Linked DNA regions of Homo sapiens. The protein of the gene in region 1 purifies or fractionates together with the protein of each later gene. This does not show direct contact. Each region holds a gene or a part of one and is shown in the gene's direction. Other genes may lie near its edges.

The links.
Region 2: the proteins of HEPACAM2 (region 1) and CYB5R1 purify together in Homo sapiens (affinity purification with mass spectrometry; 3 studies listed by BioGRID and IntAct, with this or other methods). This does not show direct contact.
Region 3: the proteins of HEPACAM2 (region 1) and MFAP3 purify together in Homo sapiens (affinity purification with mass spectrometry; 3 studies listed by BioGRID and IntAct, with this or other methods). This does not show direct contact.
Region 4: the proteins of HEPACAM2 (region 1) and PTPRS purify together in Homo sapiens (affinity purification with mass spectrometry; 3 studies listed by BioGRID and IntAct, with this or other methods). This does not show direct contact.
Region 5: the proteins of HEPACAM2 (region 1) and FGFR1 purify together in Homo sapiens (affinity purification with mass spectrometry; 3 studies listed by BioGRID and IntAct, with this or other methods). This does not show direct contact.
Region 6: the proteins of HEPACAM2 (region 1) and ERO1B purify together in Homo sapiens (affinity purification with mass spectrometry; 3 studies listed by BioGRID and IntAct, with this or other methods). This does not show direct contact.
Region 7: the proteins of HEPACAM2 (region 1) and CERK purify together in Homo sapiens (affinity purification with mass spectrometry; 3 studies listed by BioGRID and IntAct, with this or other methods). This does not show direct contact.

The regions. Positions count from the first base shown.
Region 1 is NC_000007.14:93,212,970-93,216,469, reverse strand, and holds part of HEPACAM2 (HEPACAM family member 2 isoform 1 precursor), read left to right. Parts: intron 1-784; coding exon 785-1,069; intron 1,070-3,500. UniProt on the Homo sapiens protein: Required during prometaphase for centrosome maturation.
Region 2 is NC_000001.11:202,961,373-202,964,257, reverse strand, and holds the end of CYB5R1 (NADH-cytochrome b5 reductase 1), read left to right. Parts: intron 1-530; coding exon 531-616; intron 617-1,092; coding exon 1,093-1,192; intron 1,193-1,558; coding exon 1,559-1,731; 3' UTR 1,732-2,385; downstream 2,386-2,885. UniProt on the Homo sapiens protein: NADH-cytochrome b5 reductases are involved in desaturation and elongation of fatty acids, cholesterol biosynthesis, drug metabolism, and, in erythrocyte, methemoglobin reduction.
Region 3 is NC_000005.10:154,048,967-154,052,466, forward strand, and holds part of MFAP3 (microfibril-associated glycoprotein 3 isoform 1 precursor), read left to right. Parts: intron 1-590; 5' UTR 591-756; coding exon 757-1,051; intron 1,052-3,500. UniProt on the Homo sapiens protein: Component of the elastin-associated microfibrils.
Region 4 is NC_000019.10:5,208,411-5,211,812, reverse strand, and holds part of PTPRS (receptor-type tyrosine-protein phosphatase S isoform 1 precursor), read left to right. Parts: intron 1-44; coding exon 45-223; intron 224-1,007; coding exon 1,008-1,134; intron 1,135-1,218; coding exon 1,219-1,344; intron 1,345-3,402. UniProt on the Homo sapiens protein: Cell surface receptor that binds to glycosaminoglycans, including chondroitin sulfate proteoglycans and heparan sulfate proteoglycan.
Region 5 is NC_000008.11:38,458,636-38,462,135, reverse strand, and holds part of FGFR1 (fibroblast growth factor receptor 1 isoform 1 precursor), read left to right. Parts: intron 1-880; exon of another isoform or gene 881-1,029; coding exon of another isoform or gene 1,030-1,040; intron 1,041-3,500. UniProt on the Homo sapiens protein: Tyrosine-protein kinase that acts as a cell-surface receptor for fibroblast growth factors and plays an essential role in the regulation of embryonic development, cell proliferation, differentiation and migration.
Region 6 is NC_000001.11:236,222,959-236,226,458, reverse strand, and holds part of ERO1B (ERO1-like protein beta precursor), read left to right. Parts: coding exon 1-190; intron 191-1,319; coding exon 1,320-1,389; intron 1,390-3,500.
Region 7 is NC_000022.11:46,693,253-46,696,752, reverse strand, and holds part of CERK (ceramide kinase), read left to right. Parts: intron 1-1,437; coding exon 1,438-1,543; intron 1,544-3,249; coding exon 3,250-3,326; intron 3,327-3,500. UniProt on the Homo sapiens protein: Catalyzes specifically the phosphorylation of ceramide to form ceramide 1-phosphate.

The DNA.
Region 1 (3,500 bases):
TTAAGAGCCTACTGTGTGGCAGATGATGAAATAAGACTATTTTCCTATGACTTGACTTTCCAACAGGAATTTCTATCGGATTTGTATTTTTTTCTCTAATTTGATAAAAGCCCAAGAATATATTTTATCCTATTTTCAGACTGAGTCAGTGTTGAAATAAATGTAGGTTTTGGTTTGTTAAAGTGCCTAACATAATGTTACAACACAAATGCAAAGCAATTAAAGTTTATAATTGCTTCATGACATACATAGAAAGAATAGTTTTACATATGTGATTCACTAAAATTATCCCTCAGTTTCCCAAAAGTATAGTATATATGTTAGCTGTATATTTTGCAGATGATAGAAATTTGAGTTCACCACATCCATCCCAACCAGCTGCTATTGGGACATTAGGACAAATCAATAGAGGGGAATAACCATAAAAATTTTGCCTGTGAAAGTGTACCTTTATGGTGTTGGTGAAAGCACAATGAACAGGAAATAAGGAAGCTGACATTCTCAGCCACCTATAAAGTAAAGGGCTTCATTAGACCATCCTTGAAAAGTAAGTTCTGGAATTTGATTATCTCTGACTATAAATGATATTCTCATATTTTGTCATTTTGCATTTTCCCTGGCTTTTTATTCTCTTCTCTTCTTTAGTTATTACCTGAGCTGTCTACATTTACAGTGTAAAATGCTGGAATAATTTCTCCAGGAGTTCATATTTGAAAGACCTCATAGGGTTTTATTATATTTCCATGAAAAGAAAAAATCATTCATATCTCTCTTAATATTGCAGATCCTGTCACAAAGCCAGTGGTGCAGATTCATCCTCCCTCTGGGGCTGTGGAGTATGTGGGGAACATGACCCTGACATGCCATGTGGAAGGGGGCACTCGGCTAGCTTACCAATGGCTAAAAAATGGGAGACCTGTCCACACCAGCTCCACCTACTCCTTTTCTCCCCAAAACAATACCCTTCATATTGCTCCAGTAACCAAGGAAGACATTGGGAATTACAGCTGCCTGGTGAGGAACCCTGTCAGTGAAATGGAAAGTGATATCATTATGCCCATCATATATTGTAAGTTTATTTTTTTTTAACTCATGAGTTGTTTTTTGTTGTTTTCTGAGAATATCTCCCAGGATAGTCACAGAGAATATAAGTACCAGATGTCATTTGGCTTTTTACCATTATTGTAGTTCAATAGTTCTAATCACACCTCCTAGGCACTGTCTTGTATGAAATATGTCTGCTAGCACAATCCTATTTCTTAAAGATCAAGTTGAAATACTGGCCAGGGGCCACTCAGGTTGTATTTCGTGATTCAGTCTATTGTGCGACCTCATTTCCAGCGGAAAGCAAGATTCTCAATTTCAAGAACCCAGAACAATGCAGAGGCTGCAATGAAAAAAACTGAAAGAATATCTTGAGAACTTTTTTCCTCTCCAAATATTACCATTCCTGAATTTAACATACTTTATTCTTCTCTTGTAAAATATTTTCTTTACATCAATTCTTTCTTCTAGCTCTTTATCTGTATGTCTTCCCATCCCTACCTGCCTGTCTTTAAACTCTAGCCATAGGTTTAAATGAAAAAGTCCTGGGGAAATTTACTTAAGCAATTATAGGCAAATGCAAATATCATTTTTGACATATACTTTTGTTTTGCTATACAGTTCATATTAATCTGGCAAAATGAAAATAACATCTTTCTTTCAACATGTGCAAGTCTATGCACCAATCTCATTATTATCACAGAATATGCTGTGATACACAGTGTGGAAAATATAAAAATGGGAGAGAAAACCATAATCAAACCTGCAAATGTTAAATATTATGCTTTAGGCTCCTAAGCCTTCTTTCCTTCACGATGTTATTTGAAAGAATGAGAATACCCCAATTTGAGTAAGTTCACACTTTACAGAATCTATCTTTTGCTGACAGACTGAACTTTCTTCTTTACATTATTTTAAACATTACCTATGAAAATCTCATAGAGAAACACCTATCACATGCAAAGACTAACGACAGATAATAGAAAGAAGAACATTTAGACAATTTACAAATGTGGCTTCCATTTACACATTGTAAAGATGAATTATCTACATGGCTTAAGAAAGATTTTGACTCATTAATTGGTAATTGTGAACATTGCATTACTAATTTTTGTCTTCACTATTTTTACTTTCAAATGCAGAATTCTTCACTTGGTCAACATCTCATCTTATTGATATTCATTCATTCACTTACTTATTCATTTATGCACTCATTCATTTATAGATTATTTGATTTTAAAAAATGAAACATCAGGGTCTTGTTTGTGCTAAACAATTACTACCTACCATATAACATGTACAAACACAACCCAGACCCATTAATTTAATAATTTTTCTTGCTATCACTATTTTAGCCCTGTTTTTGTTCTGGTTGGTTGGTTTTGTTGCTTTTGAGTAACAAAAATTAAATAAAATATATACTGTAATCTGAAGATTGGTTGTATATCCTATCTGTGGATGTGGCATCCAAATGTTTACAATCTTTATCATTCCCTGCAAGCTGGGAATATGTGCCTTGGTTGGTGTTATTCACACTTCTCTTTCTTCATCTGGTTGCCTTCTTCTTGCCTCATGACATCATCATCCTTTCCAGAAAGGTTTACCTGCCTCCACTTATCTCACCTCCTCAGTGTCACTAACAGGTTCATTGTGCTCCTTCAGCATCCTAGGCACTCTCATTCCGGGTCCTCACTGCTTTATATTTTCCTTGACTCTTGTGAACACCCCAAACCCAAACCAGAGTTCTGCATTCTTCATCTTTGTATCCATAGGGCAATAGCTGACAGAGATTAAGAAATCAATAAAGTTTCTTGAACTTAACTAAAATGGAACAGATTATCTTTCTTCATATCCCTTTTAGATTCCAGTGTTACTTGACGATGCTGTAAAAAGGCTAAATTCTCATTATAAGGTGACAGCTTCTTCATTATAGTGCTTTGGCACTTTTTTTTCCTGACCTTTAGCAAAATCAAGTATTCTGTTTTCTAAAGGCACTGTTTCTGTGAAGGGTTTTTTCATGAAAGTAGGAACTATTTTTTATTTTGGCAGAAAAAGTATAATAAAATCTATTAAGATTGACTATATACTTATGAGGTTGTGATGTCATAATCTGGTATTGGCCTTGGTGGAATACAATGTCAAGCCAATAACTCAGACAAGTATCTACTTGCAGTTCATGATATGCCTTCAAGCTCCAGTTGTAAATAATAACCCAGTAACCACTGCATTTTGTGTGCAACATATGGCAATGCTGCAGTGGAGAGCTCTAAGTGATAAAAATTAAAGGGGAAAAAAGGTCATTCACAGTAAATACTTACCATCTGCTCCCAAGCAGGGCGGCAAACAGCATCATGATGTAAATTTAGGCACTGTTCCCACACAGCCATAAATTGTTAAAGAGAACAGATGATATGTGATTTTACAAGTCATTTAGTAAACAGCCATCCCCAAGGCAA
Region 2 (2,885 bases), on another chromosome or scaffold:
CTATATATTAGACACAAAAATTAGACACATATATAGGTATCTATGAAGTAGGTACTAGCCTTTTCCTTTTACAGAGAGACAATGGGGTTCCAGAGAGGCTAAATGATTTCCACAGGGTTATTTCACTGGTAATGGCCTGGAGCAAAATTAGTATTTGGCTCTGCCTAGTGCCTAAGTACATGCACTTAACCTCTGCAAATACAGTGTTCTAGAACCCTCATCATTGAATCCGGAGGTACTTGTAGTCATTTGTGACACTGGAGTCCTAGCCTCCAAAGGACTTTCAGAAGAGTCTTAGATTAGTTCCTAAGAAAGATTTCTACAATATGAACTTAGATGAATTTGAAGGGTGCCCGGAAATACAGATGTTGGAGAATATGCAGGAAGAGTTTAGAGGATGAGAATGCTAAAGGAAAATGGAGTGGAGTGGTGAATGAGCAGAATGAAGATGAAAGGGCTGGTCAGCTAAGGAGCCAGGACAGGGCAGAGAGTGTGGCCACTACATTTCACTGTGGGGTATCTTCATGCAGGAATCACCCCAATGCTACAGCTGATCCGGGCCATCCTGAAAGTCCCTGAAGATCCAACCCAGTGCTTTCTGCTTTTTGCCAACCAGGTTGGTTTGTTTTCCTCCACCCTAAGACTTCAAAGTTGCTGTGTGGGTAGGGCTGAGAGACGTGGTATGGATGGGCAGAACTGGCCCAGTGCCCTGTTTTAGCCTCTGCCCAAGGTCCCCTCTGTAAGGCACAGGGTCCTCTTTCAATAAGGAGGAAAAGGACAGAGCACTGAATCAAATTCCTTCCCTGGTCCCCAAGGAAAGAAGAAAACTTTTAAGGTATCTAGTCTGGAGCACAGAAACTTAGATCTTCTTGGTTAAATATTCATCTTTGTTCCTTCATAATGTGTAGATAAAGGCTGTTCCCCTCTTCTCCTCATCCTAACTCCCTAAAAGCACTGCAAGTCTTGCTTATTTCCTAGAACTTTTGCTTTCCCTTAACATTCTTTTTCTTAGTTGGAAAGTTGTATAGCAGAAAACTTTTTATGTGGGCCTGAGAAGACTCCTAAAGACTTTCCTTCCCCTTTGCATTTCAGACAGAAAAGGATATCATCTTGCGGGAGGACTTAGAGGAACTGCAGGCCCGCTATCCCAATCGCTTTAAGCTCTGGTTCACTCTGGATCATCCCCCAAAAGGTATCCTTCCCATTTCTGGACATCCCACTATCCCCTCATCGTCAAAATCAAAGCCTTGCCCCTTTGTGAATTCTGGCTTCATTGAAATCAACCTTGCCTCACACTGCCAACTCGGAAGTCTGAGTGCACAGACACAGTGATCTCCTGGTCCCTTTCCTTTGGGTTCCTGTTTACCAGGTGGGTGACAGGGATGGCGGTGCTGCTAAGGCTCAGCTTGAGGCAGGCTGAGTATACCCATTCCCAGCTGCTGCTACCACTTGACACTTTCTCCAGAGCCTTTCAGGGCCCTCCCCAGTCTCATGGCACCACACCCCCTTGCCAGCATGTATCTGGAGTATTAAGTACTTTCTTCTCCCCATACTTCAGATTGGGCCTACAGCAAGGGCTTTGTGACTGCCGACATGATCCGGGAACACCTGCCCGCTCCAGGGGATGATGTGCTGGTACTGCTTTGTGGGCCACCCCCAATGGTGCAGCTGGCCTGCCATCCCAACTTGGACAAACTGGGCTACTCACAAAAGATGCGATTCACCTACTGAGCATCCTCCAGCTTCCCTGGTGCTGTTCGCTGCAGTTGTTCCCCATCAGTACTCAAGCACTATAAGCCTTAGATTCCTTTCCTCAGAGTTTCAGGTTTTTTCAGTTACATCTAGAGCTGAAATCTGGATAGTACCTGCAGGAACAATATTCCTGTAGCCATGGAAGAGGGCCAAGGCTCAGTCACTCCTTGGATGGCCTCCTAAATCTCCCCGTGGCAACAGGTCCAGGAGAGGCCCATGGAGCAGTCTCTTCCATGGAGTAAGAAGGAAGGGAGCATGTACGCTTGGTCCAAGATTGGCTAGTTCCTTGATAGCATCTTACTCTCACCTTCTTTGTGTCTGTGATGAAAGGAACAGTCTGTGCAATGGGTTTTACTTAAACTTCACTGTTCAACCTATGAGCAAATCTGTATGTGTGAGTATAAGTTGAGCATAGCATACTTCCAGAGGTGGTCTTATGGAGATGGCAAGAAAGGAGGAAATGATTTCTTCAGATCTCAAAGGAGTCTGAAATATCATATTTCTGTGTGTGTCTCTCTCAGCCCCTGCCCAGGCTAGAGGGAAACAGCTACTGATAATCGAAAACTGCTGTTTGTGGCAGGAACCCCTGGCTGTGCAAATAAATGGGGCTGAGGCCCCTGTGTGATATTGAAAGGGTTGTTGTGTCTGGGGTCCTTGTTTCCAAATCCCCGAGGACCTAGGGAGGAAGGGTTTGCCACCATGCAACTCTCCCAGGTGTTCCAAAGAACCTTTGAGAAGTTGTACCATGTGCTGAAATGTGAGCTGCCAGCAGACTCAGTGATCATCTCAGCAGCTGTCTCAGCAGAGCCAGAGCTCCGCTTCTCCCTGGAGGCTCTCGAGGTGGGGGAAGGAGAACACACATTAGAGGGGACATTTTTGAGCCCAGCTGCCCCTCACAGTGTTCCCTTGATAGGCCACTCTTCCCCTTCTTCCTTCTCTTGGCCTATCCTTCACCATATTTATCCTTCAGGGAACCTGGCACACAAATCAAAGTGTTGTCTTTCTGTTTGGAAGGGAAGCCTTCTTCTTTAAAAAGTAACCTGACATCACCAGCCCTGGCCGGAATTGTTGATGCCCAGATAGAGTTGGCCTCCCCCAGGCTCATCTGTCCTGAGTACCCTTCTCCTCTGCTA
Region 3 (3,500 bases), on another chromosome or scaffold:
GTATGCAGTAAGTGCAGCTTTCTTTCCAGTGTTAAAACAACCCACCTCAGGTGTCCCTGCATTATTTATATGTAACATATCTTCATACTTGAATTACTCAAATTTTGAGCTCCATGGTTATGATTATGATATGCCAGTTGATTTACATTATAACAACAGATGGTAATGGTGCAGGTTGAAATAAAAGATCATTAAGATAAATATTTTAGCCTTCATTGGCTCCCTGTTGCATAAAATTTGTCAGAATGAAATAGAATCATGGCATTTCAGAATTGGAAGAGTCCTTAGAGATTATCTCATCCAGTCCCTTATTTGACAGAGGAGAAAACAGAAACCCAGAGAGAATGCTGCTTGCCAAGGTCGTACAGCTAGTTAGTGGCAAAGCTAGGACCAAAATCTAGGTCTGCTATTTACCAATTCATTGCTTTTTCTGCTGTCTCTGTGTGAGATTTTTAGGTACTGTTCCATCTAATTACTCCCCAATGTCAGCACCAATTATTCTAATTAACATCTATTCATTCTGGAACATACGCACTTTCACCCCATTATGAATCTCAGTTGGTTAAACTTTGTATCTGGCTTTCTTTTAGGTTCTCTACTCACATCTTTTAATCTTGAAGACTAGAAAATATAACTGGATCTACCACTTGTTTGGAAAATTTCTCTACCAAGCAATAAATTACCCGCTGTGCTTTTGTTGTAGTGTAGAAGTTTTTGAGTTCTCCAAATCTAAACAAGATTTTGTCCCATTTTCCCATGAAGCTACATTGTTGCTTATTCACTTTAGTGGCAAGTATTATTGTGCCAGCTGCTTTTGTTTTGGAAGATGTGGACTTCGACCAAATGGTTTCACTGGAAGCAAATCGTAGTTCTTACAATGCATCCTTTCCCTCAAGCTTTGAACTCTCAGCAAGTTCCCACTCGGATGATGATGTCATCATAGCCAAAGAGGGAACTAGCGTTTCAATTGAGTGTCTTCTCACAGCCAGTCACTATGAAGATGTCCATTGGCACAATTCAAAAGGACAGCAACTGGATGGCAGAAGCAGAGGTAATTGGTCAGGGTATAATTAATCAAGGTTACTCATTTCCTGTTCTGTCTTCTTATTTTTTAACACGTTAAACAAAAAGTCTCAAAGATAAGGTGCCAAGGTGAATAGTTTAAAACATTTGAAAGGTCTGGAGTGTTGTACCTATCAGAAAATGCAAAGTAATTATAATTGTTTAACCAGAAGAAGAAAAAAAAGAATCATTCTAAATTTAAAAGATGTTCACATGATGACAATGAGCTATTTTCTCTCCTGATCAGTTGGTTTTCTTCTTCATTGAAGGTAGAGTAAATCAGGGCTGCTGCATACAGCTGTACAGGTGGTATACAACACAACTCTGGGAGCACCCTTCACCTAGACTACTATGTCAGTAGTACAGTGTGGTGGCCCTGTGTGAATACATCCAGAAGGTTTTTGGCTAGACTTAAGAAAATTTGTTATAAATAAAAAAGTTTTGCTCTGAAATTAGTTACTATAAACTTTAGAGGAAATCCAGGACATTTTTGAAAATGAGTATCAATCTGTGCATAAAACTTTGACGTCAGGTCTCAGAGAATTAGAAGGGCACTATGGAACTTGTAAGCCCTTCCAGCTCTTTTTTTTTTTTTTTTTTTTTTGTATTCTATACCTTAATTTACTGGAAATGAGAAATTTTTTTTTGCATTTTTTGTTTATGTCTTAAAAATCACATAAACATAGTGTGTTCAAGGTCTACTTTTTGACAGATTTTTATTTAATTTTCCTATTCATGGATCTGTGAATATATCTTAATCCAGACTACTCCTAACCAGTGTTCTGTTATAAAGATCTTTTTGATGAGTACTTGAGTTATAATGGACCTCAAAAAGAAATCACCATGAAAAGCCAAAGGGATGAAGCTTAAATTCTAAGATCCTCACAAGCTACACTTTCAGAAATTTTTTTGTTAGGAAGATAGTGTAGCCTTCTGAAATAGAAAAGGATATTGGTTATTCATATTAGGCTGGAAAACACAAAAGGAGACAGGTGATACTTCCTTCAGACATATGCACTATTTTAATCTATAGACTGAGTGACTAGTCACCAAGGGATTGAAGAGTTTGAATTGTTAGGGTATTTTTAATCAGCATGTTTAAAATACATAACTATTGAATTAGAGTGATACCTGGAATGTGTACTTTGAACATGATTTGGGGTTCCATATTTGAACCCACTGAACCAGACTCCTATCTTCTCTGGGCTCTACGATATCCTGACCAAACACCTCTGAGATCTGAATTATTCATTCAGTGTCATCACTGTAGACTGACTGCATAAACAAAGCCTTAGGTTAAAACAAGACCAGCCAAGTGGAATGGCAGTTTTATTTTTCTATTTTGCCTTTACTTTGAAAACCACTAACATCTATCATTGATGCTTTCAGCAGCAGCTCTGGAAAATTGTATTAAATTTTATGAATCTCAAGTGAGAGGAGTTTAAAGAGCATGTCAGTCTAGTATAAGGTTCATAAATCTTGAGCTATTATCAGCAAGTGAGCTAGAGAGTTTAGATTGTGGTTGTAGTGCAATGGTTGATGAATGGAGTCTTTGTAGTTCATCATACCTTGGATTCAAGTGGTGTCGTTTTCATAGCTCTAAGTTCATAGAACAGAAGCTTATGGAAAATGGCTATATTCATAACTACATGTTTTCCTCTTTTTGTATTAGTGAAGTGATGGCTTTTAAATATATTAATACCTATAGGATTGAGATAAGTTTGGATGATGATGAAAATGGACAAAATCCAGAGTGCTTACTAATTTATGTGCCACTAAAATAATCCAGAACCATAGAATCTTGGGGATGAAAGAGATTTTGAAGATTGGGCACTCAAGTAATGCTTAACAAGCAGTCCGCTAACCTCCTCTGGGACACCTCCTCTAGTCATTGGAATGCATCCCCACACTGCAGGTTAGCCCATCCTTCCCATCTCTGAATGGCTTTCATAGTTAAAGCACAGAGTGCTTTGGGAATGTATCACAAAAGTAGGAATTATGCAGTCAGAGCCAAGTTATTGAAGGATGTGAATCAAGATGCGTAGTCAATATGCTTTGCTTTTCTTACACTTGTATACTTCTATATACGTGTTCCCTGAATGAAAATACCTTCACGTGTGGAAGAGAGGCAGTATGTTTTAGGTTGAAAATGGAAGCATAGGCATCTTAAGGGCAACTTTATTCTTTTTGCCAAGCTTTTCATTTACCATGACTTGTGAGATGTATTTTTTGGCCTGTGCTTCAGTTACTCTTGCCAGAAAATCAACAAAAGTTTCTTAACAACAACAACAAAAAATTGATATGTGCAAGGCATACCAGATTAGGCAGTTACTTCAACAAATGCATTAAATTGCTAGGATTTTTTAAAATAATTTCTTCTTGTTATATAATTTCACTATGGAAAGTGAGCAAACACAGTTAGAAGAAAATAAAAATTA
Region 4 (3,402 bases), on another chromosome or scaffold:
CTTCCTCATCCTGATGGTGGCCTCTGGCTTCCTCCTCCCCACAGCGGCTGGCTAACTCCAAGGCCCACACGTCACGCTTCATCAGTGCCAATCTGCCTTGTAACAAGTTCAAGAACCGCCTGGTGAACATCATGCCCTATGAGAGCACACGGGTCTGTCTGCAACCCATCCGGGGTGTGGAGGGCTCTGACTACATCAACGCCAGCTTCATTGATGGCTACAGGTAGGTGCCATGCCTTTCCCACCTCAGGGCCCCAGAAGGAGCCCATCTCTACTCTCAAGAGGCCTCCAGTCTTGTGGGAGACAGAGCTGGGGAGATACTGGTAGCCCTGAGCTGTTTAAATACACATCTTTAGATGTATATTTAACTGATGGCTGCTGTCCGTGAATCTTTGGGTGTGTGTTTAACTGATGGCTGCTGTCCATAATGTGATTCCATCTGTTCTATCAGTGGTTCTCAATTGGGGTAATTCTGACACCCTGAGGATATTTCTTATTTTCATGAGTACTACTGGTACTGCCTGGGTGGGGACCAGGCATGCTGCTCAGCATCCTACAGTACACAGAACAGCTTGTCTCAGAGAACAATCCAGCGCCAAATGTCAATAGCACTGAGATTGAGAAATCCTGGCAAAGGAGGGGAGGGTGTTCCTGGCAGAGGGTGCCACATGTGCAAAGGCCCGGGGCTGAGAGCTTGGCCCACGCAAGCAACTGAAAGTAGGGCAGTGGCCCTTGAAGGAGATGGAGGGAAGAAATCAGGAGAGGTTAGTGGATAGTCCCGCAGCTTTGTCAAGGGATTTGAATTTGTCATGAGACTGGTGGTTTCCCCACATGCAAAATGGGATCACCAGGAGGGGAAGTGGTGCACCCAGCAGCCATTCCTGGCAGGCAGTGGGGTGGTAGGTGTAGCTGTCACTGGCTTGGTCCTGACCCTCCCGGGCAGCATCAGGTGAGTACCACGCCGGGTCTCCCTGCCGGCCCTGGGCTCATACCCCCAACGCCTGCAGGCAGCAGAAGGCCTACATCGCGACACAGGGGCCGCTGGCGGAGACCACGGAAGACTTCTGGCGCATGCTGTGGGAGAACAATTCGACGATCGTGGTGATGCTGACCAAGCTGCGGGAGATGGGCCGGGTGAGCTAGGGGCCACAGCAGGGAAGGGCGAGGGCCAGACTGTGGCTCAGACAGCGCTGACCACGGCCGCCATCTCCTCCACAGGAGAAGTGTCACCAGTACTGGCCGGCCGAGCGCTCTGCCCGCTACCAGTACTTTGTGGTAGATCCGATGGCAGAATACAACATGCCTCAGTATATCCTGCGAGAGTTCAAGGTCACAGATGCCCGGGTGAGTGAAGAGACAGACTGGCGGGAGGGGCTGGAGCCTTAGTGATCTGGAAAGGGCTGCCCTGGTTGGTGATGGATACAAAGGCCAAGGGTTAGGCATAAGCATTGGGAATCAGGAGAAGTGTCAGCTGACCAGTTGGCCACTTGCTTCTACTGCCACATAGGTGGAAGAGAGGGTCTTATCTCTGTGCTGACCCTGCAGTGTCTCCACTCACTAGGGAACATGGCCCCAGGGGATGATATTCAAGGAAGTGAATGGGGCTTTCCTCTGGAAGCAGCCACCTGTGGAGGATGATGTTAAAGGGCTGAAAGGGACTTGAGGGATTGAGGGTGAGGGGTGGTAGACGGTGGACAAGGAGAGTCAGATGGTGGGGACTGGCACCGTTGGGTGAGGAGAGATGAGTATGGATGGTGTTGGCTCAATGAAGGACTGCAGTGTCAGGTGGAGGGAGAAAGGCCAGGTATTAGGTGGCAACAGATGAAGACTCATAGTGGAAGGTGGCCCTGTTGGGTGACAAAGGATCAAAGTTAGTGGTGGAAGATCGACGATGGTAGAGAACGCAGTGAGGGGATGATAGAGGATGGGGAATGTTGGCCAAGATGATGCCAAAGGATGGTGAAGGCTGCTGAATGAACAGCAATCACCGGGCATTGTGCTGTGAGCAGTGCAAGATGGTGCCCTTGGAGGGGTGGAATCTGGAATTGGAGAGAAGAACATTCGCATAACAGGATGGAGAATGTCAGTGGAATGTGGTAGTTTGGGTCAGTGAAGGGTGATGCTTTATCAGTGATGGATGGAGGAAGACAGAATTGGAGAAGGGCAAATGTTTGGCCAGCAGGGGGTGGAGAAAATCAATGGGAAATACTAGGACTAAGAAAGGACAGTAAACAATAGTCAATGGTATAAACCAATGGGTGGTACAAGATTGAGGAAGATGGGGTTGGGAAAGGAGATTTTAGAAAATGTAAAACATCAGGGAAAGATGGTACATTGGATGGCAAATGGTGGCAGAGGATAACAATTTTGGATGGCACCATTTTGATGGTGGAGGATGGGATTAGAACAAGGCAGATGATGGGGAATGGAGAATGTCAGTGGAAGATGGTACCCTTGGATGGTGGAGAGTGATGAATTGTTAGTGATGGATGGTGGAAAATGGCACCATTGAGTTGTGAAGGATGGAAGATGGCAGAGAATGATGTGGTTGGATGGCACCACTGGGTGGTAGGAAAGGAGACTGCAAAGAGGAATGGTTGAGTAGTGGGGAATGAAGACAGTCAGTGGAAGATGCCATCACTGAATGGTTAAGGATGAGTTACCAAGAGGGGATGGTGGTGGATGATGGAAGATGATGGTGTTGGGTGGAACTCGGGACGGCAGAAGGTAGTGAGTTACCAGCAGTGGGTGGTAGCAGTGGCACTGTTATTGGATGGTGGAAGATGATGGTGTTGGATGGTGGACGATGAAAGATGATGGCACCATTGGGTTGTAGAAGATGAGTCATCATTGATGAGCTATGGACAGTGATGGAGTTGAGTTGTGCTGTAGGGCCCCGAAATGGCACAGAGTGGAAGATGACAGAGGATCATGGTGAATAGGAGCTGGGAAGGGCAGAGCTGGTTGCACTATGGGATGGCAAAGGATGGAGGATGGAGGTGCTGGATGTCATACAGGAAATGTGGGGAGAGGAACAGCTGGGTGGCAAGAAGTGGTGAGGATGAGGTTGGAGCATCTCTTATGGAAAGCAGTACCATTGGATTGTGAAGGACGGTAAGTTGTCAGGGTAAATGAATGGCAGAGAGTGTACAAAATGGGGGTGAGGGCCGGGCCTGGTGGCTCATGCCTGTAATCCCAGCTAATCGGGAGGCTGAGGCAGGAGAATTACTTGAATCACTGGAGGTGGAGGTTGCAGTGAGCCGAGATCACGCCATTGCACTCCAACCTGGGCGACAAGAGTGAAACTCCATCTCAAAAACAAACAAACAAACAAAAAATGGGGGTGAAGATAGGGAGGATGGAGAAAAACCCCCATGGCCGCTGCTGACCTGATAACAAGAT
Region 5 (3,500 bases), on another chromosome or scaffold:
TATAGAAATTATTGATGAGATACTTTACATTTTTTTCATAACAAGTTTTTAAGATGCGGTGTATACTTTTTACTTATAGCATATCCGTTAGCACCAGCCACATTTCAAGTGTGCAGTGGCCACTGTGTGGGCCACAGGTCTAGAATATAAGACATGAAGATGGAGAGTGAGAAATGCCTTTGGAAAGGTTGGAAGTTCCTGTCCTTCTGCTGCCAATTACCAAATCTCCTGAGAGTGCTATTAAGGAGTGACTCAAAGCACTACACAAAGAGAATTATAAATATCTTAATATTATATCTGAAATCCAAATGCATAATTCTTTACATTTGGTTGGTACTTTAGAGAGGAGAGAATGGGCACAGTCACCCACACCACCCATTTGAGCCTCATAATCACCTGTGATGTGGCTTCCTCTAGGTGGGAAACCGAGGCTTAGAACGGTTAAGTGACTATCCCAGGGTGGCAAGATCATAAGTGGAAGGGTGTGAATTCATACTGTCTCCAGCGGACAAGAATAAAAAGACCCAGGCTGGGTGTGGTGGCTCATGCCTGTAATCCCAGCACTTTGGGAGGCCACTGTAGGTGGATCTCCTGAGCCCAGGAGTTCATTACCAGCATGGGCAACATGGTGAGACCCCATTTTTATTAAATATACAGAAAATTAGCCCAGCTTCTCGGGAGGCTGAGGTGGGAGGATCACTTGAGTCTGGGGGATGGAGGTTGTAGTGAGTTGAGATCGTGCCACTGCACTCTAGCTTGGGTGACAGAGCAACACTCTGTCTCAGAAAGAATAAAAAGATTTGGCCATGAATTCGTCAGCTAGTTTTCCTTACATAATTTTTGGACAAGGAGATCTGACATTCATAGGTTTTTCTCTTAGAAGTGGGAGAGCTTCAAGGTCACGTGGTCCGTCCAGCCCCTGCTATCTCACCAGACACTGTCCACCCTGTATGTTGGATCAGTACTCCAGTGAGAAGACAGCAGGCACTTTCACCCATGCAGCCCATTCAGTCTTCATAACCACCTGTGATGGAGGCAAGGCAAGTATTTCAGCCCCCTCTGATGAGTGGGAAACTGAGATGTGCCCCCTCTCTGCTCCCCACCGAGGACCTCTGCATGCAGGCATGAATCCCAGGAGCCTAGCTGATATTGGAGAGACGGGGCGGGGGGAACCAGCTGCAGGGTCTTGGAGGAAGCTGCTGTGTACACCTGCAAGGCTGCAGGTTACATCTATCTGTCAAGCAGTGAAGGAAGGAAGTTGTTTCTAAGGGATTGGAAAAATTCATTAATTAGTAGAATGAGAAACTGAGGTGAAGCAGGAGGTGGCAGGGTCCCAGACAGCATGTTGGACTAGTGGCCTGTGTCACTGTGTTTTTTGCAGGCGGGTGGCATGGGGTGTATGCTGACTTCTTATTCCAGGAGTTGGTGCCAGGAGGCCAGGTTTTCTTAACATCCTTGTTTTACAGATGTCAAACTTGAGGGCCAGAGGGGTAGGAGAGGAAGAGACTTTTTGTACCTTTTTTGGGAAAGAACAAGAGGGAAGCTGGCAGATGAATTTGAAGTGCATTGACCAGGGAGCTGAGAGAGGGCGGTCTGCAGCCAGCCCACACCTGGGAGGAGGCGGCAGGCTTTTCTGGGGACAGAGTGGCCAAGTCGAAGCAAGCTTAACCATCTCAACATGACACCACTCTTTCCCATTGGAACCTGAGAACTTGTTCAGTATTCTGACACTTAGCAAGGGACCTGGGTTTTCTTGGTCAGGTGTGCGTTTCTGGGTGACAGGCCTGCATCAGGTGTATTTTCGGGATGTAGTAAGTTGTGGAATATGGGTTTAGGGGCATCCTCTGGCAAGCACTGCTTCTATCCCAGCTCTGGGAATGTGCCCCATGCAGTGTCCTAGATGGCCCATCTGTGGTCTGCTTCCAAGGGTCTTTCTTTTAGTTAGTTAGTTTTGAGACAGAGTCTCACTCCGTCACCCAGGCTGGAGTGCAGTGATGCAATCTCGGCTCACTGCAACCTCCACCTCCCAAATTCAAGCAATTCTCATGCGTTAGCCTCCTGAGTAGCTGGGATTACAGGCGTGCACCACCACACCCAGCTAATTTTTGTATTTTTAGTAGACGAGGAATTTCACCATGTTGGCCAGTCTGGTCTCAACTCCCCACCTCAGGTGATACTCCCGCCTCAGCCTCCCAAAGTCCCGGGATTGTAGGTATGAGCCAACATGCCCTGGCACAAGGGTCTATCTTTGACCAATGGAACTGCAAATCAAGCCTCTTTTGTTACCAGAGTTACCTTGGATTTACCCTTATCTACTTGGTTTGGATAAATTGAGTTTGCATCAGATGGAGTCAGGCTTGATCAATCCCTTATTTACTTCCTCCCACCCTGTTCTCTAATATCCAAAAACCTTGAGGCACTATTACATGCTAGCTACATTTCCTTGAGTAAAGTACTTAACCTCTTTGAGCCTCAGTTTCTCCATTGCATAAAAGGAATAATAAAACTTATCCCCCATAAGTTTATAGTGAGGAATGAATTAATTCCTCACTATAGTTCTAAATTAATTCTACTTAGGGCATCCTTGGTACATAGTGGGTGTTCAGTATTCATTTCATTTTCTCTTTTCTGATTCCTTTCGTAAAAGTAGAAAAATGAAAGAGAAATGTTGACTTCTCTTTTGATTTGAAATCATTAAAACATTTTAGTAAGCCTTGGGAGGGAGCTAGTGGTGTGGCATGTGTATCCCGCTGGCCAAGCACATGTGAACGAAGCCAAGAATCCAGGGGCTTTTCTGCCAGCCAGCACTGACTCACTTGCGAGGGGCCCTGCCTGGCTCGGGGGAGGCAGGGCTGAAGTACCACATTAGGGCATGTTCCGGGGAAGTAGATTCTCTGAATAACTTGGATGGCTCCCTGGAGCATTTAGGACAGAAGCCACCTGGAAAATAGAGATGGTCACCCCCACGTAGCCTTGACAGTGCCCAGAAAGTCTTGTCACTTGGTAAATGTTAACAGCTATGATCCGTTCTTTAAGACCCTGGGGAGTTTTAAGTTTTACCCCACCAGACCTGAGAAGGGTAAAGGGCTGCAGATTCTGTTCTTTTAACTGGGGCCAGTGTGAGCCATCTTTGACTCAGTGCTTGCAATAGACCTTGATTCTGCAGTGGGACCTCCCAGGCCCCCTTGCCCCCCGCAACTTCTGGACTCATATCCGTCAGACATCACTTGTCACCTTCCAGCATCAGGGAGAACTGGATCCCTCCTGGCTCCACACTCTTAGGCTCTTTGTAAGTAGCTGGTGAGGGTTTTCTTCTCTCTGCAAGGGAGGCTGGTAGAACTATGGATGTGATTCGTACAATTTTAGAGACAAAAAGAAAGTACCCAGGAGGTCATTTATTTCAGCTGCTTCATTGCATAGGTCGGGGAGTTGAGCATGGAGTCCAGCAGCTACTAACTAGTTATCTCTGTACCTGGCTTCCATTTACTGGTCCTTAGCTT
Region 6 (3,500 bases), on another chromosome or scaffold:
ACCCTGTGGAAACCAAGGGAGAAGGTCCAAGAAGGCTCAAGAATCTTTACTTTTTATACTTGATTGAGCTTCGAGCTTTGTCAAAGGTGGCTCCATATTTTGAGCGCTCAATTGTCGATCTTTACACTGGAAATGCAGAAGAAGATGCTGACACAAAAACTCTTCTACTGAATATCTTTCAAGATACAAAGTAAGAATTGACTATCCGTGATTTGAAATTCTCCTCTCTGTATTCAAATGAGGTAGCACTTAAAGTACACAAAAACTGACTCCTAAAAGTTAACCGAGGGGAGATGTAGAACAGAAAAGGAAAGTGATCAATAGAACAACAGAATTTAAAAATATTTCTGAAAATGTTGATGAAAAAGCATTAATAAGGCTTTCTTTTGCAGAAATTTTCACACTTGAGAATAGTGCTTTAAAATATCACTAAATTTTATGTAGTATCAAAATTTAGTGCTACTTTAATGGTCTTTCTACCAATTTTGTATTCTTCTAGTCACTTTATTTACTTACTTATTTTTGAGACAGAGGCTTGCTCTGTTGCCCAGGCTGGAGTGCAATGGCACAATCTTGGCTCACTGCAGCCTCTGCCTCCCAGGTTCAAGCAATTCTTGTGCCTCAGCCTTCTAAGTAACTGAGATTACAGGTGTGTGCCATCACACCCAGCTAATTTTTGTATTTTTAGTAGAGATAGGGTTTCACCATGTTGGACAGGCTGGTCTCAAGCTCCTGGCCTCAAGTGATGCACCCTCCTCTGCCTCCCAAAGTGCTGGGATTAGAGGCATGGGCCATCGCGCCTGGCCTCTAGTCACTATATTTAAATTTAGATGATAATATACATGTGTTTGCATTGGGATGGATATGTAAGGAAACATTAGCCTTATCTTCTAGAATATAACCTTTTAAACAAAACGCTTGGTCAAGAAAACTTGAGTTAACTGGTTTTTAAAATAGCCTGGAAGAGAAAGATTAAAAAGTGTTTAAAGTAAATTATGTATTAAATTTTTAAAGAATATTAAGGGAATATTGCCTATTTTTTACATAGATTGTTTTCAGTTAATTTTTTAGATTACCTGTGTCATTTATTTAAAACATTACAGTCTTACTAAATTTAACAGCCATCTGTGTCTTGCTTTAGTCTTTTATGAAATAGTTTATGTGTGAACTGTTTGTCACTTTTCTACATTACCAAAACTTACATCGGAGTAAATAATGAATTTTAAATATTCATAAGGATAGAAAATTTTATCAGGTTTCTGATACAGAGTACGTGGATTTTTCATGTGTAACTTAATCCAATACTATCATTTTATCAGGTCCTTTCCCATGCACTTTGATGAGAAATCCATGTTTGCAGGTGACAAAAAAGGGGCCAAGTCACTAAAGGTAAAAAGTTCTCGATTGGGACACGGGGTTGGGAGCAGTTTGCTGGTTATGCTTTAATGCTGTGCATCCAAACTGTTTTCTTTCCCAGTTTTCCAGCTTCTTGTCAGAGTTGGTCTGATTGGATTTTAATACAAATGGTACAAAAAGCCTTTCCATATTTCTCAGTTCCATTGACCAACTGCTTAGTGAATCATTGGTCATTAGTATGTCCTATAACACCTTTATAAATGTCTTTTTAAAAGATACTAGTTGAGGGAAAGTTTTCTTAGTTTAAAAGCAGTGTATATTGTCGTTTTGATGCAGCTTTCAGAATACCATGAGCTTTTAGCCACTTTGAGGACAATAAATATTTTTCTAAAGTTTATTTTATGGAATGTTACGGTTTTTGAAACATATATTATGTTTTTGTCCCTTTGGACTAACTTAAAAGGTTAAAACTACCTGTTAACATGTGACATCAGAAGGAGAATATGTTTTGGGAACATTACCAAACTTCATGTTAGGTGTTCTTTATTTTCATTTGCTTAAAGTACATTAAGAAACAAATTGTACCCTTAAAATGTTCATAAAAGTATTTGAAATTGGCATTTTTTTTTTTTTTACTTTTAAATTTATTTTTTGAGATGGGGTCTCGCTATGTTGCCCAGGCTGGTCTCAAACTCCTGGCCCTGAGCTGTCTTCCCACCTCAGCCTCCCAAGTACCTAGGATTACAGGCACAAGCCACCATACCTGGCCACAAATAATCTTTGAGTACAACTTCATAGTCTTTTATATGTACTTCTGAAATCCGGGTAGTTTCAAAAACTGAAACATTTTCTTATGTTTAGTGCAAGGTAATTTTTTAGCAAAACCTGACCTAAACTGGTGTAAGAATATAGCAGATATTCGTAGTTTTGTGGGGTTGTTTTCAAATTCTGCTTGGTATGAATTTTTTATATTTTGCTACAGAAACATTAACGGATTTGACTGCAGGGTGTTTCCTCACACTCTGGTGAGATGTTTCATAATATACAGTACATGTACTGTATTTCTAAAATTTAAAAACTTCTGAATTCTAAAACACATTTGACCCCAAGATGTTTTAGATGTGGATGTACTATAGGAACCAATAAATCAATACTGAGTGATTCTCCTTTGGCGAGACTTTCTTGGTATTTCTGAAATAAGTAATTTAGTCACAACTATATTTTAGTGTTGGAAGGTTGTTTTATTTTACAGTTGTTTTAGAGGTATATTGCCATTTTGGTATTTTGTATGTTAATTCATTTTTATAATGCTTCCTGTTTTCTAAGTATCAACACATATGTTCTACTTTTAATCTTCAGAATGATCTTGTGTAATAGGGCAACTATAATTATGTATGTTTTTGTAGATGAGGAAAGTGAGACTAAGCAAAGCCTAAGTGTCTCACAGCAAGCTTTTAACTACACAATGCTGGGATTTTGTTTGCTGTTTGTCAAGAATGTATGAAGGAGAACCTATGTCCCTTTTCCATCTGCTGCAAAGAACTTACATTACATGAGAATATGACCAGCACAGGAGTTTTTGTGTTCTATTTATATTGTCTTTCTTTGCCAAGGTATTGATTCCTTTCAACCCTCTGGCAGCTGGTCAGGGCTTGTGGTAGCCAGAGTTTTCAGGCTACTTGCCTCCCGCTTCATGCAATAAAATATTTCCCTCAATGCAATAAAATGATTTTTATTTTCTGCAGTTGCCATGTGAAACAAATGAGGAAATTTTCTCTTAACCAATCTTATCCGCAGATAAAGTGAGACCAACCTTAAAGGCATATTGCACACAAATGCTTATAGGCAGAAGAATTTCCCCAGTGTAGGAAACTTCTCTTTTTTTTTTTTTTTTTTTTTTGAGACAGAGTTTCACTCTAGTTGCCCAGGCTGGAGTGCAGTGGTGCGATCTTGGCTCACTGCAACCTCCACCTCCCGGGTTCAAGCTATTCTTCTTCCTCAGCCTCCCAAGTAGCTGGGATTACAGGCATGCACCACCACACCTGGCAGATTTTGTATTTTTAGTAGACATGAGGTTTCACTATGTTGTTTAGGCTGGTCTCAAACTTATGACCTCAAGTGATCACACCTTGGTCTCCCAAAGT
Region 7 (3,500 bases), on another chromosome or scaffold:
GTCTCTGGATCCCCATCCTGGCCACAGGGCCTGAGATGCTCTCAGGAAAGCGGGTTTGGGTTCTGTGGCTGTGAGGCAGAAAGCACCCGGTTGTTCTGGAGCAGCACAGAGGGCATGGAAGGAGAATGAGCGTGTGGAAATGACACACTCTGTTGAGACACGTGGAGTTTTAGGTGCCGGTAGGACATCTGGGGCCCATCTAGGGGCAGACAGAAACCGGGACATCAGATGTCGGTGAGGCGCCACCCTGGAGGCTGCGTCTGGGTGATGAGGCAGCTGCCCCCCTGCCCCCTGCACTTGAGAGAGGAGCCGGCTTGGAAGGTTGCTGACCAGTGGGTCGGCCTCCTCCCAGGGCCGTGGACACGACGTCCTTGTGGGACCCCCATGGGAGGAGCAGGGAGAGAGGCCAGAGCCACTCTGCAGGGAGGCGGAGCTGCAGCCACCTGGAAGGGCCCGCCCGCTGAGTGCATTCCAGGCACCTGGCCCATGCCAGGTGCAAGACCCACAGACGGGGCTGTCCTAGGGACAGTCGGGAGCTGACTTTCAGGCACACAGATGTCCTAGGAGCCAGACTGCTCTTGCCGGCAGCTTCCCCCACCCCTGGGCGGTGCACACTTGGCTGTGGGCTTGCCATCTGCGGATGAGGATGTGAGGCCTCTGTGTGTCGGGGGTAAGGTTGTGTGTGACGGCCCTGCAGGCCGTCACTGCCACACCAGATGTCATACAGGGCAGCACCAGCCCCAGCATCAGACACGGAGGAGTGAAGTCGCCCTGAGACTCACAGGACACGGCCTGGCTCCTGGTGTGGCCCACGACACCCTGGGGCCCCTCTCCTGCCTCCTGCCCAGTCCCTGCTGTCCTGCTGGGTGGTGTTTCCCAGACAGCCCGGGTGCCAGGCTGCTGGCAGCCCCGTGGACAGCGCACACGTTTGCCTGGAGGGTGGCCCCAGACTTTGGGTGGCAGCGGCCCTGGCCTCTGTCCTGAGCTGTTCAGGACGTCACAGGGGCTGTGGCTGACCCCAGTGGGGGCCAAGCCCTGAGGCAGGTGGGGGCATCACTGACCCTCATGAAGAGGTGGAGGGGATGACCCTGAGCCACTGGAGCCCACAGGCCACATCATCGAGGCTATGAGGGGTGGCTAATGGCAAAGGCCCCACTTTGCCAGCGTCAAGAGTGGCCATAGCCCTGGCTGTCCCAGCATCACTGGGTGTCAGAAGGCACCAGCACTATGACTAGACGTGCTGTTGTCCTGAGGGAGGGCAGAGACCCTGCCACTGCCTTCAATGGTGACATGGCCTGAAGCAGGCCCGGCCTCTCCCTCCTGCAGACGGTTTAGGCAGATGCGCGCTCAGCGACATTTCTGAAGCTGCCCAGCACAGCATCCTAACCAAGCAATGACCCTTGTGGATGTTTTTTCTTCACTGCACTCTGTTCCCAGGTTTAAAGACCTTCCTCTCCCACCACTGCTATGAAGGGACAGTGTCCTTCCTCCCTGCACAACACACGGTGGGATCTCCAAGGGATAGGAAGCCCTGCCGGGCAGGGTAAGTGCATTGCTTTGTGTGTTTCTCTTGCAAATGACGGGAAATGAAGCAGGACGGTTAGGAAGGTGAATGCAGAAGTATTTTCCAAATGTGGTGGAAGGTGCCGGATGTAGCGTGCCCAGACACACGATGCCTATGATGCCCATGATGGCCTAGGCGTGCATGGGGCTTGCTGTCCCCATCTCTGTCCCCATGGCCTGCGCAGGCAGCTGCTGCTGTGCCAGGGATGAGGACTCTGGGGGAGGGTCCCACACCCACTGTTGGAGTGGGGGCTGAGCACAGGGTCTTTCCCTGCTGGGGTTCCCTTTACCCCCTGCAGGGGCCTGATGGAGGAGAAATGCAGGCAGGAAAGGATGGCAGACACCTTATCAGTGACTGTGCGTGTGCAGGGCACTGGTGGCAGGACCGTTGGTAGAGCTGGCTGAAGTGTGCACTCTCAGCAGCCACCCTCCTGTCCACACCCCTGGCTGAGACCCTCACCCATGTTAGCCCCATGCTCCAAGGCAGGAGCCCACTCTAAGGTTAGCAGAGCCCAGGCCAGCCACGCCTTCAACCCCACAGGAAGGCAGGGACCCTCAGCAAGAAGGCTCGGGCTGGCAACAAGGGCTGGTGCCAGGGGTTGGGGGGCAGAGCCAGGGCAGCTGCCCAGGGAGAGGGGATGCAAAGGGAAAGAGGCGCCCCACCGGGGAGGGGAGGCTGAGTGCAGACAACACAGCTGGAAACGCTGCGCTCTCCCCTTACATTTGGTCCCCCAGTTTGGCCACTGCAGGCTCTGCAATGGTGGCTACGCCACTGAACAAGCAGGGACTCCTTTCACCTGGCATATCTCCGCCCCCACCCCCACACAGTGTATTCAGTAATATGCGACCAGTGTAAATAGAACCTTAAATAAATCTAAACATAGTTGTCCCAGGCCGCATGACCTCCCTAGTGACCATGGAGGGCGCCTGAATGGTCATCCTGTCTCTGCTCTGCCTGGGGCTGAGGACACGGGGCTGTGGAGACAGCTGCGCCTTTGTGAAGGACACTCACGTCCTTTCCTTTTAAGTCATGCAGACTTCAGAACCTCCTTCTAGCTCCTTTCCTTTTTTAAGTGAAGAATTGGAGACCATAAAATCAGAATATGTAGAGGCAGATGCTGTTTGCGTCAGTGCATTAAAGAACTCGGCTGCTGATGAGCGATTTCCATCAGTGCAAACAGTGTCCTGTTTGACAGCGTGAATCCGGCAGCCCCCAAGATCAGAAGGACGTGCTAGACGAATGACTAAGTTCTAAGCTGATGGTTCTGAGTTATTTGCTTGTTATTGACTGTAACAGATAAACCCTGTATGATTTGTTTTCTGAAAGTAAATGAGTCCTCACCCCAGGAGTCCGCTGGGGGAACCAGTGCCTCAGTCATTTCTCCCAGCCAGGCTATGTTAGCTGGAGGGCCAGGCAGAAACCGTCTCCAGGTGGCACCTCAGCGTCCTCATGCTGTGCTTCTCCTCATGTCCAAACCTTTTAGAGAAGGACATGTTGAATGTGTCATTGTAAAAGTAGGTCTCATTCTGAAACCTCTAATTAATATGCCAAAAAATATTTTGTTAAGCCTTTGAAATGGAATTTTTTCGTATGTGAAAAGAATGTAAATACATCTATATGTGCCAAGCATACGCACTGCACCTGCAGCTCCATATTTAAAAGGTGATGATATTCTTGTCTTTCAGATGCTTTGTTTGCAGGCAAAGCAAGCAGCAGCTGGAGGAGGAGCAGAAGAAAGCACTGTATGGTTTGGAAGCTGCGGGTAATTCCTAAAACACAGGCTCAGTGTTGTCACTGTGTGTGCTGGAGTGCGGGTTTCTGTCCTCTCTCAGGGCACTGCCTCTTCTCCCTGCCCACCTGTGCTTTTCCTTTTTCCTGTCTGGCACCAGGCATCCATTTCTTCTTAGCCCCAGGCAGCGTCAGGTCACTGTTACTT